Homo sapiens: one gene and its partner. The protein of the gene in region 1 purifies or fractionates together with the protein of each later gene. This does not show direct contact. Each region holds a gene or a part of one and is shown on either strand. Other genes may lie near its edges.

What was found.
Region 2: the proteins of ABCB1 (region 1) and LAPTM4B purify together in Homo sapiens (co-immunoprecipitation; one study listed by IntAct). This does not show direct contact.

Annotation. Positions count from the first base shown.
Region 1 is NC_000007.14:87,548,885-87,552,384, forward strand, and holds part of ABCB1 (ATP-dependent translocase ABCB1), read right to left. Parts: intron 1,955-3,500; coding exon 1,841-1,954; intron 1,695-1,840; coding exon 1,584-1,694; intron 1,413-1,583; coding exon 1,287-1,412; intron 1,171-1,286; coding exon 967-1,170; intron 635-966; coding exon 464-634; intron 1-463. UniProt on the Homo sapiens protein: Translocates drugs and phospholipids across the membrane. Catalyzes the flop of phospholipids from the cytoplasmic to the exoplasmic leaflet of the apical membrane.
Region 2 is NC_000008.11:97,803,288-97,806,787, reverse strand, and holds part of LAPTM4B (lysosomal-associated transmembrane protein 4B), read right to left. Parts: intron 1,436-3,500; coding exon 1,324-1,435; intron 1-1,323. UniProt on the Homo sapiens protein: Required for optimal lysosomal function. Blocks EGF-stimulated EGFR intraluminal sorting and degradation.

The sequences.
Region 1 (3,500 bases):
GAGGTTTCTTATTTCGCATAGAGTCTTCAAGTGGCATTCAACACCTGGAAAATTATATATGGACCTTCAGGTTGTATTTTTCTCTTCTTGGCAATATTACAAACTCTCAAAACCTAAATAACAGGGTTATCCACATAGTCAAGTTTTGAAGATCACAATGAAGATGAACTTTCACATGTGTCTATATTTCTATTTTTTAATTTAAAAGATTAGCAAGTGTCTTCAAATGAAAATGTATTCATCAACATTTAAAATAAGATCAGAGAAATAAATAGAAATTGAACAATAAAACAAACAAATAGAAAAAGATTTCAAAGAGGCCCAATGCTTTTATTTTAATAGCTGAAGGAATCACCTAGAAGCTATCAGAAATTTCCTTTTCTAAGACCAATATTAACAAGAATTAGTAGTAGAATGTTCTTATGCTTATAAATCAGGTTGGTTTGAACTAAGCCTCACTGACCTTATCCAGAGCCACCTGAACCACTGCTTCGCTTTCTGTGTCCAAGGCTGACGTGGCCTCATCCAGCAGGAGGATCTTGGGGTTGCGAACCAGGGCACGTGCAATGGCGATCCTCTGCTTCTGCCCACCACTCAACTGGGCCCCTCTCTCTCCAACCAGGGTGTCAAATTTCTACCACAGAAAACCCAGAATGATTTAGCATAAGGACAAGCTATCTCAGCTCATATTTTAAATTGGTAAGGAATCCTATACACAGCCCAAGTCTCACAAGTAATACAGGTCCAGTTCTTTAAATCTTATTTAACACAATAACCAACCTCAGTTTTTAAAAATGTATCTACGACCAGTTGATACTGCTAGAGCTTTCAAATCTGAAGTAATCTTACTTTCCCTTCTTAGGATTTCCCTTCTTCCGATTTATAGTAGTTTCCTAACTTCCTGCATAGTAGGCCTGCATTTTATTTTTTGCACCTCTAGAAAGGCAAAGGGCAAGGACAACTTACATGAGGCAGTTTCATGATAAAGTCATAGGCATTGGCTTCCTTGACAGCTTTCTCAATCTCATCCATGGTGACATTTTCACGGCCATAGCGAATGTTTTCAGCTATCGTGGTGGCAAACAATACAGGTTCCTGACTCACCACACCAATGATTTCCCGTAGAAACCTTACATTTATGGTCCTAATATCCTGTCCATCAACACTGACCTGGAATAAAAAGTAAGTGTGACTTTCATACATTTGTAATTGAAAGGGCAACATCAGAAAGATGTGCAATGTGACTGCTGATCACCGCAGGGTCTAGCTCGCATGGGTCATCTCACCATCCCCTCTGTGGGGTCATAGAGCCTCTGCATCAGCTGGACTGTTGTGCTCTTCCCACAGCCACTGTTTCCAACCAGGGCCACCGTCTGCCCACTCTGCACCTTCAGGTTCAGACCCTTCAAGATCTACCAGGACGAGTGAGAAAAAAACTTCAAGGCAATTCACAGACACAGGATATAGGAACTGACTGTTCACTAGGTTTAAATATACATGCACTTTTTTATAATCTCTACAAGAAAACATCAGAAACTCTTCATTCAATAGATTAATTGTTGATTAATCATTTATCACTGTACCTTAACTTCTTTTCGAGATGGGTAACTGAAGTGAACATTTCTGAATTCCAAATTTCCCTTAATATTATCTGGTTTGTGCCCACTCTTCGAATAGCTGTCAATACTTGGCTTCTAAACAGAATCAAATTTTAAGAGATTACTAGGTTACAATAACTACTTTTAGTGATATTTTGTGGAGAGCTGGATAAAGTGACAAAGAAATTGACTTAACTGGACAATCTTTTAGATAGGTGGATAGATGGCCAACTCAGACTTACATTATCAATTATCTTGAAGATTTCATAAGCTGCTCCTCTTGCATTTGCAAATGCTTCAATGCTTGGAGATGCCTGTCCAACACTAAAAGCCCCAATTAATACAGAAAAGAATACCTGAGGAATGTGAAGAAAAACCATCAGGCTACTGAGATAGTGACAGCAATTTTTTTTCATACTTCTTCTGTCTTTTTCTAACATAGGTAATTAAAATTTAAAATGGCGAGGCAACATATAAATACTAGGTGTTAAAAATATTTTAAAAGTTTGTAACTAACAGTACATTTAATTCCTTTTTTCATTTTTTTTCCTTTTTAAGAGACAGGTTCTCATTCTGTCACCCAGGATGGAGTGCAGTGGTGCAATCATAGCTCGTCATAACCTCTACCTCCTGGGCTCAAGCAATCCTCCTGCCTCAGTCTCCCAAGTAGCTAGGACTACAAGCATGCACCATCACACCTGACTAATTTTTTTTATTTTTTCTAGAGACAGGGTCTCGCTACGTGTCCCAGCCTGGTCTCCTGGCCTCAAGCAATCCTCCTGCCTCAGCCTGCAAAAGTGCTGGGATCACAGGCATGGGCCACCACACCCAGCCAAGAGTAAATTTCAAATGTGTCACCTCAAAAGGTGTCAAGTGAGGAGATAGATATGTTAATTAGCTTGCTCTGATCACTCCACATTTTGTGTGTATGTGTGTGTATACATAAACATCACATTGTATTCCGTAAGTGTAATGCAATTATGATTTGTCAATTAAAAATAGCATAAAATTTTTTTAAAAAAATTTTAAGACAAGGTCTTGCTTTGTTGCCCAGCCTGGACTGCAGTGGTGCAATCTTGGCTCACTGCAACTTCAACCTCTGGGTTCAGACAACCCTCTCACCTCAGTCTCCGAAGTAGCTGGGACTACAGACAAGTGCCACCATATCTGGCTAATTAAAAAAAAAAATTATAGAGATGAGATCTCACTATGTTGCCCATACTAAAAATATTTTGGAAATATAAATACTTTTCAATTTAGAATGCAGAATTAGTCTTACTTGCTCAATAAACAATGATTTAAATTTCACAGGGCTAGAATATTATAATAGGATATTTTTATATTTCTTCAATGTCTAGTTTTTTTTTTATTTAGATCATCAGTAAGGTAAAGTGGAAATAAATGCTAGCAGAGGAGTCAGAAGACCCAGTTCTGAATCCTAAATTAGTAATAACTAGTTATATGTTGTTAGGCCATTCTCTTAGAATCTTTGGCTTCAATTTCTTCATTGGCAAAAACAGGCAAGATTCTATCTGTTCTCCCTACCCAGCAATCATAGAGATGTTGTATCATGATAAAACAGTGTATATGAACATTTTTTGTTAATTATAAAGCACACACACCTAAGACACTGATCCTTTATCAGGTTGTCTTTTTTGCCACAAGGCCGTGTTCTCTTTAGGCCTTTTGTTTTTTTGTTTTGTGCAAATCAGTTTCTTATTGGTAAAGACTTAACTGTGTTTCTCTTTGGGGTTGATGAGAATTAATGTCATTATTCATTTTTTCTAAATCACATGGAATTATATTGCTCAATAATTTACACAGAAGGAACTTTGCTAAGTGATTCTATATTCATTATCTCAGTTAGTCCTCAAAACACGCTGAAAGTTAGGGTTCATTCCT
Region 2 (3,500 bases), on another chromosome or scaffold:
ATGAGGTATTGTCACCTTGGCCAGGCTGGTCTCGAACTCCTGGCCTCAGCTGATCTGCCAGCCTCGGCCTCAATCTCATGAGACTTACTCACTATCACAAGAATAGCAAGGGAAAGAGCAGCTCCCACAATTCAATTACCTCCCCCTGGGTCCCTCCCACAATACAGGGGAATTCTAGGAGATACAATTCGAGATTTGGGTGGGGACACAGCCAAACCATATCAATTCCAAACAACTGTGCTCAGCTAGTTACTGAAATTAAAGTCTATTTTTCTCCCCCAGGTCTGTTCCCACCTCCTGACTCCGGACTTTCTCAGCTCAGTTAAGATGCAGGTCATCTCCTAAAACTGGAAAGCAGAAGTCATCTTTGATTCCTCCGTCTCCTTCGCTGCCCAAAACAGCAAGTTGCCAAATCCTTCCCTGTTCTCTATCCCCAGTGCAGCCTAGGTGGTATCCCCAATACCACTCTCCCAGGCTCTGTGCTCACACACCCAGTACCCTACTCAGCAGCAAAAGGGATCTTAAATGCATATATCAGTTCATGCATTTAGTTAAAACCACTGAACAGCTTTTTCTTACTTGGAGAAACAAAGAGCCCTCACCATGTCTTTCGAATGCTTCCGATCTCTAAAACTGCATGTTGAGCCACTCTCTCCTCTCTTACTTTGCTCCAACACTTTTTAAGAAAAACTCACTTGAAGTTCTCCGAAGCCAATGAGAAATAAATCTGTACTATCTTCTGCTGGAGATTATGCACAGCACTACTCCTCTCCTTTGGCATGGACTCGGCATAATGATTATAAAATGATGAGGCTGCAGTGATCTTCAAGCTGGGAGCCTAGCTTCCTCCCTGCTTACCCCACATCCACATCCCTGTACATATTTCCATTCACTGGGAAAAGGCCCTAAATTCCCCCAAATAATCTGCAACATCATTTCTAGAATGGAAAAGGATCACTCCTAGAATAAAAATAAATACTGAAACATAATAGAAGACACAAGGAGATAAGCACAAGCCTTTTCACCTTCCTTCCTGGCATTTATACCCCTTCCTCTCAAAAAAGGCCAAAAGGCCCAGGGTAGAAAGTCTATGATAATGCAATCATTTTTAAGTGGGTAAGTTAACATAAGATGAAAATAGATCTTATTTAGACTCTTGCACCTAGAAGACAGAATGTTAGACGCACACAAATATTCGTTGATTTGCAATGACAAGTTATATATCAGCTCAAATGAACTCACGAGTCTATATTTGTAATTTAATAGGAAGTGCTGGCAGTCAGATTCCCTGCCCTTGAAAATACCCAAATATCTACTACTTACTGGCATCATCCATGAACTCAAAGTCACCTCCCAGTTCAGAACTTGAAAAGTTATACTGATCCGGATCAGCCAGGGCACTCAATAAAATCAACAGTACCACAGCATTGATGATCTGCAACAAGAAAAAAAAAAAAAAAAAAGAATTTAAGTAACCCCAGGATGCAATCCTTATAATAGAAAATTACACTGACCACATGGAGTCAGGCTGGCCACAGGCAACTTCTTCAGTGGCTTGACTCTCAACACTAAGCCCCACCCATGGAGGGAGCAGATAAACATTCCCAAGGCAGAAATGCTGCCAGCCCATTCAGTTGCAGCCAAGTGCACAAGGCTTGGAGTGAAGACAACAGCAGGATTTTACCTCATTCCCCCTGGCCCAGGCACCATAGAGCAGTGAACAACACACACAAACACAGGCATCAGCCCTGGCGCCAGTGGTTGAAAAAGCACAAAAACTTTCCAGTGAGTCAGCTACACTCTAGAGCTAAAGGTAAGCAACCCAAGTTGTCTCAGTTAATCAAACATTTTACAGGTTCAAACTAGTGGAGCTTTGAGAGCTTTGAAGCCATCTAGGAAGCAGTTTCAGAGAATGAATGCAAAGCTACATAGTGGATCCAGGATCATCCTTCTGCAATAACCCTTTCCAGGCCAGGCCAGGCCAGGCCAGGCCAGTAGTCCTGTCTTCTGAGTACTGCCCTTGGCTACTTTAAACTCAGCTCCTCTAAATGACAATCACCTTCTTTAACATCTCCCACTTCTGCCCTCCTTATTTGTTCTCTAATTTAAAAAATGGCCTCGCTATTAATAATTAATGAAAAACATTCAGGCACTATGCTAAGTGCTTTATGTGGAATCTCTCTTAAGCCCTGCAATAACCTAACGAAGTGGGTACTAAATTATTCCCATGTTATACATAGCAAACTGAGGCTCAGAGGTTAAAAAACACTGCCCAGGAACAAACAACTACCAAGCTGTAGAGATGGGATTTGAATCCAGGAATTTAGGTTCCAAAACCTAACCTCTACAAGTCTCCTGTCCATATACGAAACTTGATCATCTGAGTTTACCATCTTTATCCTGCACACTCAACCAACTGCAAAATCCTGATCATTCTACCTCTTCATTTCTATTTCCTTTATTCTTCCTGTCACTGCTGGACAATACACACACATATTAACTTTGATGGGGCTGGGGTAGCAAGGATTGCAGAGTTTAAGTGAGGCACCAGCTAAGACTGGGTTGTTGTCTGCTGAGAGACAAGGTGTCTATATTGCCCAGGCTGGCCTCAAACTCCTGGGCTCAAGCAATCCTCCCACCTCTGCCTTCCAAGTAGCTGGGCCTACAGGTGCGCATCACTGGGCCAGGCCAAGACTGGCTTGTTACTTCTTTACTATTCTAAGTTCAGAAACTTATGGCACAGTTCTATGTTTTACTCTTCTCAAATGGAGTGAAGATACACAGAGAAAAGCCTCTTACTAACAACACTAACTAATGGCATATCCTACCACAAAAATCATATTTGGGTTGAACACAGTGGCTCATGTCTGTAATCCCAGCACTTTGGGAGGCTGAGGTGGGAAGATCAGTTGAGCCCAGGAGTTCAAGACAAGCCTGGGCAACACAGTGAGACCCCATCTCAACAAACAAGAAAATGAGCCAGGCACAGTGGTGCATGCCTGTAGTCCCAGCTACTCAGGAGGCTGAGGTGGGAGGATCGCCTGAGCCCAGGAGTTTGAGGCTACAGTGAGCTGATGCGCCACTGCACTCCAACCTGAGCAACATAGTAAGACCTTCCCTCAAAACCAAATAAACAAAAATCCACATACTTGGAAATACCTGTTTAAAGGAAGTGTAAATGTTTTACAGAACATCCATTCAAGAGTTTATTTTTGGCCCGGCACGGTGGCTCACACCTGTAATCCCACCACTTTGGGAAGCCAAGGTGGGTGGATTACTTGAGATTAGGAGTTCGAGACCAGCCTGGCCAACATGGTGAAACCCTATTTCTTAAAATGCAAATTAGTTGGGCATGGTGGTGGATGCCTGTAATCCCAGCTATTCAGGAGGCTGAGGCAGGAGAATCACTTCAACCAGGGAGGCAGAGGTTCCAGTGAGCTGAGATCGTGCCACTGCCCTCCAGCCTGGGTGAAAGAGTGAGACCCTGTCTCAGGGGAAGA